Linked DNA regions of Homo sapiens. The protein of the gene in region 2 purifies or fractionates together with the protein of the main gene of each other region. This does not show direct contact. Each region holds a gene or a part of one and is shown on either strand. Other genes may lie near its edges. The genes, in order: MAP7, CTIF and DNAAF9.

Region 1 (3,649 bases), on a different chromosome or scaffold from region 2:
AATCCGTAATTTTTTTTGCACACAAATTATTTTTTTCGAGAAGGTGTCATGCTCTGTTGCCCAGGCTGGAATGTGGTGCTACCATCTCGGCTCACTACACCCTCCGTCTCCCAGGTTCAAACAATTCTCCTGCCTCAGCCTCCTGTGTAGTTCGGATTACAGATGTATGCCACGACACCTGGCTAATTTTTGTATTTTCAGTAGAGATGGGGCTTTGCCATGTTGCCCAGGCTGGTCTCGAACTCCTGAGCTCAAGCGATCTGCCCGCCTTGGTCTCCCAAAGTGCTGGGATTACAGGCATGAGCCACCGCACCTGGACTGTACGCAAATTTTAGAATAGATTTTTTAAAATCCCTCTGCCTATTCAAGGATTTGTAATTTTTTCCTCTCACCAGCAAGCTTTATGGGAGGGTCTATTAAATTGGCTACCTTTCTTCCCAAACTGCTTATCTCACAATCACTTCTAATCTGATGTAGCCCCAACTCTTGCACCAACAACTGAAATTCCTCTTCTGGGGTTGGTCAGTGACTATTTGTAACCAAACCAACAGCTTTTTATAAAATGTCTTCATCAGTCTTTGAATCCCTTACCTCTCCATCCCTCTCAGCAGGTGTGACATTGCTCAGCTGTGCTTTTCCATCTGTCTGCTTTGCTGGCTCTTCCTCCTCCCATGCTTTACAGGTCGTCTCACCCCTTTGTGGTTTTTCTGAGCTCTCCTCACTCCCAAACCTTCAGCTATTATTCCTTTATGGAGTGAATCCCAGAGTCCTGACCTCTATTTTTCTCTTTTAGTCCTATACTTCCAGTTGCCTTTTGAACATTTCCACTTACAGATCTCTCTTGTACCACACATTTTCATGTCTAAAGCAGAGAGGTTTTTTTCCTGTTTCTCCCACCAAAACCTGATTCTGCTGGACACAGTGGTGCATGCCTGTAGTCCCAGCTACTCGAACAGCTAAGCCGGGAGGATCACTTGAGCCCAGGAGTTCAAGTCCAGCCCAGGCAACATAGCAAGACCCGCCCCCCATCTCTTTGGGGTAAAGAACAAAACAGGTCCTCCTCATGAATATTTTCCAATAAGTCAATGAGCCAAACTCAAACTTGGAAAAGTCTCATATGTCACCTTTTTACCTGCAATCCTTTGACACATGCCCCTGCAGAACCTTAAATTAATCGTCTCTTCCTATTGCCATGCTAATGACTGCCTGGATTTCTGCAGGAATCTCAAAGTTGGTGTGTATGTCGCTGAACTCTTCTTCAGTCCATCCTCAAGTCCACGTTGCTACTTTGAAATGAGGACCAGCTGAGTAGACCTAGCCCTTCATTGATCTCCAGAGATTTGGCTAATCTGGCTAGGCAGATATTCCTCATGCATTCTCATCCCTCCAGGTGCACCCTTCCCAAAGCAGTAAAAGAAAAAAAAAAAAAAATCAATGGAAGAGAATGACTTTCCCAGAGGGAGGAACTTTGCTTTCATTAGCTAAAGGCACAGCTGAGCTCTTGTTAGAACTTGCAATCAATATTTCAAGATTCATGGGCACAGAACTACCTGATTATTCCTGCTTTAATCAATATCCTTTATTCTCAAGAATCCTCAACACTTCCCCCACTACCCTACCCCAGAAAAATGTACTAGCCTCTCAGTTTGGCCTTCAGCCCTTCCACAATTTGACTTCGATGAACAATCATTCCTAACTGACCTAGGACTTTCTTTGAGCTTTACACATGTGTCAATATGACCAAAACTTTGCTCTTTTTCACACCTGCATCTTTTTCTCCCTTTCCTCCATCTAATTTTATATCCCACTTACCCATTTTTAAAAGTTTATTTTTTTATTTTTTAAATTAAAACAAATTTAATTTTTTTTTATTTTTGTGGGTAAATAGTAGGTATATATATTTATATGGTACATGAAATGTTTTGATACAGGCATGCAATGTGAAATAATTACATCATGGAGAATGGGGTATCCATCCCCTCAAGCATTTATCCTTTGTGTTACAAACAATCCAATTACACTCTTAGATATTTTTAAAAGTACAATTAAGTTATTGACTATAATCAATCTGCTGTGCTATCAAATAGTATTTGTTACTATTCTTATTCTTTCTAACTTTTTGTTTTTTGAGACATGGTCTCGCTCTGTCACCCAGGCTGGAGTGCAGTGGTGCAATCTTGGCTCACTGCAACCTCAACCTCCTGGGTTCAAGTGATTCTTCTGCCTCAGCCTCCCAAAGAGCTGGAACTATAAGCGTGCGCCACCACACCAGGCTAATTTTTTTATTTTTAGTAGAGATGGGGTTTTACCACGTAACCCAGGCTAGTCTCAAACTCCTGGCCTCATGTGATCTGCCTGCTTCAGCCTCCCAAAGTGGTGAGATTACAGGCGTGAGCTACTGCCTCTGGCCTTTTTTTTTTTCAAACCATTAACCATCCCCACCTCCCTGCCACCTCCCACCCCCTACCCCCACTACTCTTCTCAGCCTCTGGTAACCATGCTTCTACTCTCTCTGTCCATGAGTTCAATTGTTTTGATTTTTAGATCCTACAAATGAGTGAGAAGATGCAATGTTTGTCTTTCTGTGCCTGGCTTATTTCACTTAACATAATGATCTCCAGTTCCACCACTTTTTAAAATTTAACTTCAGTGCTGTATCCAGTATGTTCTTCCTGCTGACCACAGCCGGAAGTGATTCCTCCTTCACTGAACTCCTCATAACCTGCAACTGTTTGTTGGTGAATTTTGTCTTCCTTGCTAAATTCAAGGATCATTTGTTCAACAGCCTTCTAACCACCATAATGCTGAATACACAGAAGGTACACATTTCTTATTCTAAGCCTCAATATTTTCAATTCTTACATCAATACGAGGCCCGAGTTTTTAAAAATAACTCTTCCAAATGATTGTTTCTCATGCATTGGGAGGCAAAGATGTTAGAATTTTTTTAGAGAAAATGCCAGTGTAAATAAACTGTGTAAAAATATTTCACACAAGCCTATCAATATTACATAAATGCATGCTCCTGAGCACAATTGCCTAGTCTAATAATAACGTTTCCTCCTACTTAGCAAGATGTAAAGGTAACAGCCATATAGGATGGGAGAAAAGCTATCTAGCTATGTGAATGAAGCATCTCTTTCAAAGGGGACAAGCTTAATACCAAATTGACGTCTGAGCCCTTATTTAATTGCAGATATTTAATGTGGACCCTTAGAGTTAAGTGACACCTACAAGATCACTTTTTGATTTGGAAAAGTTCATGAAAGGATGGTCACGAAAGAGGCCATGTTCACCACACAGGTTGCTAAAATGGACAAAAAGCCCAATTCCAGATTCTAAGTCATGACCCACTTCCCAAAATATCAACAGAATTGACAGGTTATTGGCATTAACTTATTCCTTCGTGCATGAAAGCTTCATGAATTAATCAAAAGCAGCTTTAAATTTGCTTTTAGTTCAGGAGGTTTTTAAAACAGGCTATCAGACTAGGAAATTAGTGCTGTACACTCGCTTTCCACAGCTCTTGAACATGAACATAAAATTAAATATACAAAGCTTGGGTAGAGGCAGTTTTGTGAATATCACCCATCGTAGGTCGACTACTCAAAAAAGGCTGAAAAAGGACTTGACATCCTCTAGTGGTGAT
Region 2 (3,492 bases):
TGAGCCAGGCAAGTCGGGGGAAGCATGGACTGTAGCACGGCAGGACTGAGCGCTGAGCAGCCCAGCCATGGCCCTAGTTAGGAAACAGTTCCAGCCCCTGAGTAAGTCCACAGGTTTGTGGGTTTGAAAGTCTACAGCACTGGGCCAGTGGAGAAGAGGGCTTTGACTCCTGGACTTCCTCCTGTGGCCAGGGCCCAGGGGTGCCTGAGTCAATGGCTGAACCTCCTCACCCATAGAGGAGTTACCAATTATACGTCTCTAAGCTAATTTCATTTCCCTGAGGACTTCTGCTGACCAGTTGTTAACACTGGATGATCCCAGCGCACTCACTGCTGCAGGCTTTCTCTTCAGTGGCCTCTTGAATCACGGTGTTCAGACCTGGCCCAGGGGCTCCACATCGCACCATCACACTGACCTCCAGCTGCTCTAACCCTGTCGGAGAAATCACGGCCACCCGGCGCAACTGACTTTCTGCTCTCTGACTTTTGTGGGCTCTCACTCTAGCCTGAACCTTGGAGATGTTTGTTACAGGCCGCATCAGGGCTGGGGCTGCAGGTCGGCGGGGGCTGCAGGGAGCTACAGGGCCCAGTAGCCGGCATGTCTCCTTCAGTGGTGCTCTCTGCCCCTCTCTTCCACAGCTCTTGCAATCTCAGGATGTGAAGGAAGATGCTGTCCTTTGCTGCTCTATGGAGGTAAGCTTTGGGGCTTCGACATCCCCAACCTCAAAGCCGGTGCATCTCTCATGCCTTAACAGTTCTAGGGGCACGAGGGTTGTTGGAGGCATTTACAAGTCCAGGGGAAGGTAGGTGGATGGCTTCAGGAGTGGGCATGGACTTCTGCATCCAGAATTATCCACCCCAAGCCAGAGTGAACACTGATGGTGAGAGCAGCTCACCCCTGACTGAAGGGAGAGAGAAGTGATTCCCAGTGGCATTGCCTACTTCCCTGTCCCCCAAAGACCCCCTGCGCCCCAGCTCAGGCATGCCACACAAATGACTTAAGAAGTTCCTGATTACCTCTGCCCTCAAATATTTCCCTTTGCTTTGCTAATGCTTGGCAATGCAGTGCTGGCACAGCCCACCCGAAAGCACACCTCTTGGGAGGTGCCACTCCTGTCCCTAAGCTGTGGCCCCTGCTAATGGAGACTCTTCCTCTGGGCTCTCCCTTTAGCGCCTGGCTTTGGCCCAGTCCCTGGGCAGATCTCTGCCCTCTGCAGATGGTCCAGAGTCACTCAGAGTGGGATGCAGGCAGGAGAGGGGCTTCCAGACGAGGACCTGGGCCTGGCAGCTGTCATAAGCATACTCAGGTGGCTTCCGCCTGGCTGCAAAGGCCTCACTGAGGAGCTCAGAGGCCAGAAGCACTGGGAGCCAGATGGCAGTCTTGGGTCTGTGGGACTCAGTTTGTTTGTTGGCCTCCAGCTGGGCACCCTACAGGGGGCTTGGGATTAGGGGGGAATTAGGGAGAAGGAGAAAGCCTGGTCCTTGCCCTCAGGCAGCTTCCAGTCTGGTTAGGAATAGCTCTCAGAGAGTAGATAGAATAAGTGTAAGTACAGAGACATCCCTGAAGAGTCAGGGGAGAGAGGTCAGGAAGGGCTCAGGGGTTCAAGGGAGGCTTTGTGAAGAAGGCAGAGACTAGAAAAATGAATGGGACAAGGCTGGGGACCGAGACGGGGACTGAGATTCTATAGAGAGGGCCTGGGGGGCACTGGCCAGGGGTGTGCTGGTCCAGGAATAGGGGCTCCTTCCCAGTGGGCTTTTCAAGATTATCTAGGGCTCTCCTGACGGCCTCTGGCTGGCCTTCTTCCCCAGTTTGTATTTCTCTCCCCCACTTCCTGTCACAAGCATGAGCAGAGGTCACTTCTGGGGGCTGGGAGATGGGATCAGGATCAGGAGAAAAGGAGAGCGAGAGAAACAGGAGGCATCACCCCTGCTCTCAAGTTCCAATGGACACATGTAATAATGACTAAGCTCATTGCCAGAGAGACGCCCCAGCAAGTGAAAATGACCACAGGGCCCCCTGATCACCAAGGGGCACAGATCATGGAGCCATTTGAGGGTGCGGATGTAGTCAGGGAAGGCTTCCTGGAAGAGGGAGGCTCTTGGGTAAAAGGGACAAGAGGCATGTTCCTGGTGACAGCTCTTTCAGCCCTGGGCAGTAGGCAATATTCGGATCCCTCTGGATCCTGCTGGCAGATTGGTTGGTAAATGTGAGCTCTCACTCTTGGCTACTCCACCTTCCACTCTCCCTGTCCTCATTCCAGCTGTGGCACAGGGGTCTGGGCCTGTGTGTCCTTAAGACAACCCAGCTATTTCCTATCCCTGCCCACCTAATCAGGGTGGCCAGTGGGCCACTGTGGGACCCGAGGCCATCCTAACCCCACATCTCTGTCTGCAGCTGCAGAGTACAGGCCGGCTGCTGGAGGAACAGCTGCCTGAGATGATGACAGAGCTCCTGGCCAGCGCACGGGACAAGATGCTGTGCCCCTCGGAGTCCATGCTGACCCGGTCGCTGCTCCTAGAGGTCATCGAGCTCCACGCTAACAGCTGGAACCCTCTGACGCCCCCCATCACGCAGTACTACAACAGAACCATCCAGAAACTGACAGCCTGACAGCCAGGGGGCCTGGCAGGCGGCCCACGGGCAGCTGGGGCCCTGGTGCACAGGGCCAGATGGACAGGCGGGAGGACAGGGGTGGCCCTGGCGGGAGAAAGAAATGGGGAGGAGGGCAGGCAGAGTCGGTGGCCAGTCTGGAGCCAGACGGGGAAGGGAGCAAATCCCTGAGAGGAGTGCCCCCGCACAAGCCCCCCAGCCCGAGCATGCAAGCTCACACCAATAAGGGAAGCATGTTTCTTTTTCCTGGTGGCCCTGGCCCTCCCCTTCCTCACTCCCGCCTCTCCCCTCCCCATCAGACCCATCCCCCACGGAGCTTTGTGTGAGGGATCTCATCGCTGTGACTCCTCGGAGACCTTGGCAGCCTCGCACGCCGGGGCACCGCTTGGGTCAGAAAGGACCTCGGAAGGCTGAAAAAGTGGGTCGGAGACGGGCTCGCATTGTTCCCGCATGCTGTCAGCCGCAGTCGCCAACTGGCAGCAGGCGACGTGTAGCAGATGTCCGGGAGGACAAAGGCAGGCACGGTCCCCACCAGCCGCCCGTAATTGACGGCCTTTGTCAGCCATGGCAGAGCTGACGCTCCACCTCCCACCTCCAAGTCCTCCTCACTGCAGCCCCCACAGCCTCAGGCCTAGGGGGTCAGGCGCAGCGGGGGAGATGGAGTTTGCAGTTCCACTTGCACTCTTTTGTTTATTGTGTTTTATTTTTCAAAAGTCGGTTGCTTTGAAGTCTCTTTGGCCAATGAAAATGCCCGTGATGTGATCACACAGTCAGCACTGTTGAGGACCCCCGGATTAGTGGGAGATCAAACCCAGCTCCCCTCTAGAAGAAGGATTCGAGCCACAGACAGCTTGCCAGTAGCCAATTAGGGTAATTGGAAAC
Region 3 (3,649 bases), on a different chromosome or scaffold from region 2:
AAGAGAAACAAAGACCACCACGTAGTACAGCCCCACATGGTGAGAAGACCCGCTCTCACGGGCGGGCTCCGACCCCTCTTTAAAAACTCTTCTGCAGCAGCCAGACTGCCAGGCCAGTGCAGTCAGGAAATGGCTCAAGCTCCTAAAGCTAGAGCTTTCATTTAAAACTTCACAGCAGCCCACTTAGAGAAATGGCCTGTGGTTCCCACCCCCCAACCCCTTTTCTAAGGCTGCTCAAGTTTGAGTTTTTAAAAAGAGTTCGGTAGAGCTAAAGGAAGCTACAGTAACTCACTGCTTATTAATCAATTGCACTTAAGATCTATGTTACTGATTCTGAAGCGAGGCAAGCCCTTGACGGACCGCAGCCTCTGGCCAGCCAGAAGTCAGGGGGCTCCCAGACTTAGGTTCCACAGTGGGGCCCTTGTCATCAGTGGCTTTTGGAGCTGGGACTGGAGCACGTGGGTCTTTTCAGAAGCCCTTCTTGATGCAAAATTTCTTATCAATGGTATCTGGAGTTTTGTTCATTTGGCTTCAAATTGTTTTTTTTTTTTTTCTAATATATTTTACTGACAAGCCCTTGAGAGCTGCTTTGCTACTTGCATGCAGGCCTCTGTGTGACCAGGCACACAGACTACATGTGCTCCATCTTGTCTCTCCGCTGCTCCAGGGGCCTTGCTCAAAAACCCCCTATATTACTGGAAACTGCTGGTTTTACCTATGTGCTTCTTCCTAAGGCATGCAAAAAAAAATATGTGAAATTCAGAAAACATTTACAGTTCAGGCAGCTGAGGCACTGAAGTCCTAAGAGACATCACCTAAATATCAGTGGCTGTGACTCCCCTGTCCCCCACACCAATTATGAAGGTCAGGCATGGGACACACTTGTAATTCCCCTCTGCTTTATGGTCCAGCTTAAAACGATGCCATTAGAAGGAATTCTAACTCAGGTATTGCAATTATTTGAAATTCCCAATCCTCAGGAGCCACACAAGCCCAGGGCCAGCAACAACACTTTGGGGAGCGGGGGGATGAGTTTCCTGAAGTTTGTGGCTGAAAAGCAGGCCTTCCTTGGCAAGGCTTGTGGGAGCGCTGGGTGCTGGAGACTGACCCCACAAGTGATCAGCCACCAGGCCTAAGACTAACCAGCTGCAGGACGCCCCCTTCCACAGTGAGGTGAAGCCTCGCCAGGGGGCCTGAGCAGCAGGCTTGCTCTTGTCCCTACATTAGGACACCCGAATGGTGTGACAGGAGAGCTAAAGAACCACCCACAAGGGGAAAAGCTGATGTCAACTTAAGAGCCACACACCTCTGGAAAGCAACAAGCCTCTCCTTCAGTTTAGTCCAGAAGGGAAATCCCCTCATTTGTGAACACATCATTCATCTCAACCCAAGCTGCTGGCTCTGTGGACTGGGCCTGGGCAAGGCTGTGCTGCTCCTCCCAGGACTGGGCCCACGGCCAGTACGGCCAGCTCCTTCAGGGAAACGGGCCTAGCAGGGGAGGCAGGCACTCCACTGGGGAAGATGGCTCTCGTGGAGCAGCATCTGAGGCTTGAGGCCTGTCGTGGCCTCGCCTCCCAGACACGGCCACAGTTCAGGCAGCCAGGGTTCCTTCTAAGTCCCAGTAGCTCCTCTGTGTAATCCTAATGCTTCTCCCCAACCTCAAGAGCCCAAAGGAGATCCTGTTATCAGAAACCCAGAGCTCCTGGACTGCCAGTTGCACACGTAGACGGGCAGGCCCCATCTGCTCATCCTTGAGTATTCCCCCGACCCCCAAAATCAATGGTGCAGGTGATGCTCTTCAGCGCTATACAGGGAATAAAGACAACATGCACTCAAGCCAGCCCACACAGGCCAAGGAGAACAAAGACAGCCCCTTAAGGGAGAGGCCTCCAGCAGAGCTGAGGTTAAGACACCCGTTCGTCCATCTCCAAGGTGGACATTCTGCAGGACGTACGGGCCCAGCCTTCCTCTAGGGCTTCAGCTCAAAGAGGTCATGATACTCCTGCTGTTCCAGCTCCTGGTTATACTTCTCAATTTCCCGGTTGGCTTCTTCCACGTAGTCATTCATGAACTGGTCCATGACTGGTATCTCATTAAGGAAGAGAGCTCTGAGCCTGGAGGACAAGGGAGGCTGCCTGAGCCCAGAGCGGCCTGTAGGCAGGTGAGGGGGGTTTGCTGAGGAAGTGAGTGTCTGGCCCATAGAGAGGGAACCTGATGGACTCTTTGTATATACTGGCAGCACCACAGCTACAAAGAATGCAATGGCTGTTGTCACAGGGATGTTAATGAGGTCCTAGAACTGAGCCCTTCAGCTTCAGCCCTATCCATCTTTTCACAGGTTAACTGTTGTAATTAGGCTGTCTTCGACTTGTAAATCGTGACTCTGATGACGACAGACTTCAGGATATCACCGCAGCTGCATCCAAACTATAACTCACAGGCTGGGCGCAGTGGCTCATGCCTGCCATACTAGCAATTTGGGAGGCTGAGGTAGATGGATCACTTGAGCCCAGGAGTTTGAGACCAGCCTGGGCAACATGGCGAGACCTAGTCTCTAAGCTGGGCGCGGTGGCTCATGTCTGTAATCCCAGCACTTCAGGAGGCTGAGGTGGGAGGATCACCTGAGGTCAGGCGTTTGAGACCAGCCTGACCAACATGGAGAAACTCCGTTTCTACTAAAAATACAAAATTAGCCGGGCACGGCGGCAGGCGCCTGTAATCCCAGCTACTCGGGAGGCTGAGGCAGGAGAATCACTTGAACCTGGGAGACGGAGGTTGCAGTGAGCTGAGATTGCGCCATTGCACTCCAGCCTGGGCAGCAAGAGTGAAACTCCATCTCCAAAAAAAAATTAAAACAAGACAAAACCAAAAAACTATAACCCAGAGTCACATTAGCAATCACTCAATAAAGGAGCAATTTAACTTTAACAGCTTTAGAGACTGAAATGAAAAGTTCGCCCCTGAGGTTTGCCCCTGTGCATTCCTGACCCATCAGTGGACATGCAGAGTGCTCCTGGGGCTCAAATGCATGGCTCTGGCAGACAACCGCTTTGCAGACAGGGTCACACACTCCCAGCCTCACTGCCCGGGTTCCACACAGGGACCACGCTGTTCCAAGGATACGTGGGTGAAAATCAGTTTTGTCACCAAAGAAGTTAACAAATTGGGTGCCATTATAAAAGTAGCCTGCAGGTAGGGGTTCCAAGTGGCGTTTTACCTGTAGGAGAAAAGAGACCTGTAATAATTATCTGACTACTTTCTATACTTCACTCACTCATTAAAACAAACAAGTCTATTTCCCTAGCAAGATAGACTACTCTGCTATACAGAGGAGCTAGGAAGCTAACACCCCCGGCAAACCTCAAGCCCTGCCTGAGGTGGTTCCCCACCTCTCAGGTGAGGAGCTCTGGGAGGTCCTAGTGGGATGAAGTTCCCACGGTGTGCAGTGGTACTGATGTGCAAACACACTCTTTTATTTATTTATTTATTTTTTTGAGATAGAGTCTTGCTTTGTCACCCAGGTTGGAGTGCAGTGGCGTGATCTTGGCTCACTGCAACCTCCATCTCCTGGGTTCATGCAATTCTCCTGCCTCAGCCTCCCGAGTAGCTGGGATTACAGGCATGCGCCACCACGCCTGGCTAATTTTTG

Evidence for each region.
Region 1: the proteins of CTIF (region 2) and MAP7 purify together in Homo sapiens (affinity purification with mass spectrometry, with the first as the bait; one study listed by BioGRID). This does not show direct contact.
Region 3: the proteins of CTIF (region 2) and DNAAF9 fractionate together in Homo sapiens (co-fractionation; one large-scale study listed by BioGRID). This does not show direct contact.

Annotation. Positions count from the first base shown.
Region 1 is NC_000006.12:136,543,903-136,547,551, forward strand, and holds part of MAP7 (ensconsin), read right to left. Parts: intron 1-3,649. UniProt on the Homo sapiens protein: Microtubule-stabilizing protein that may play an important role during reorganization of microtubules during polarization and differentiation of epithelial cells. Associates with microtubules in a dynamic manner.
Region 2 is NC_000018.10:48,856,950-48,860,441, forward strand, and holds part of CTIF (CBP80/20-dependent translation initiation factor), read left to right. Parts: intron 1-638; coding exon 639-692; intron 693-2,394; coding exon 2,395-2,610; 3' UTR 2,611-3,492. UniProt on the Homo sapiens protein: Specifically required for the pioneer round of mRNA translation mediated by the cap-binding complex (CBC), that takes place during or right after mRNA export via the nuclear pore complex (NPC).
Region 3 is NC_000020.11:3,250,603-3,254,251, forward strand, and holds part of DNAAF9 (dynein axonemal assembly factor 9), read right to left. Parts: intron 3,218-3,649; coding exon 3,124-3,217; intron 2,083-3,123; coding exon 1,970-2,082; 3' UTR 1-1,969. UniProt on the Homo sapiens protein: May act as an effector for ARL3.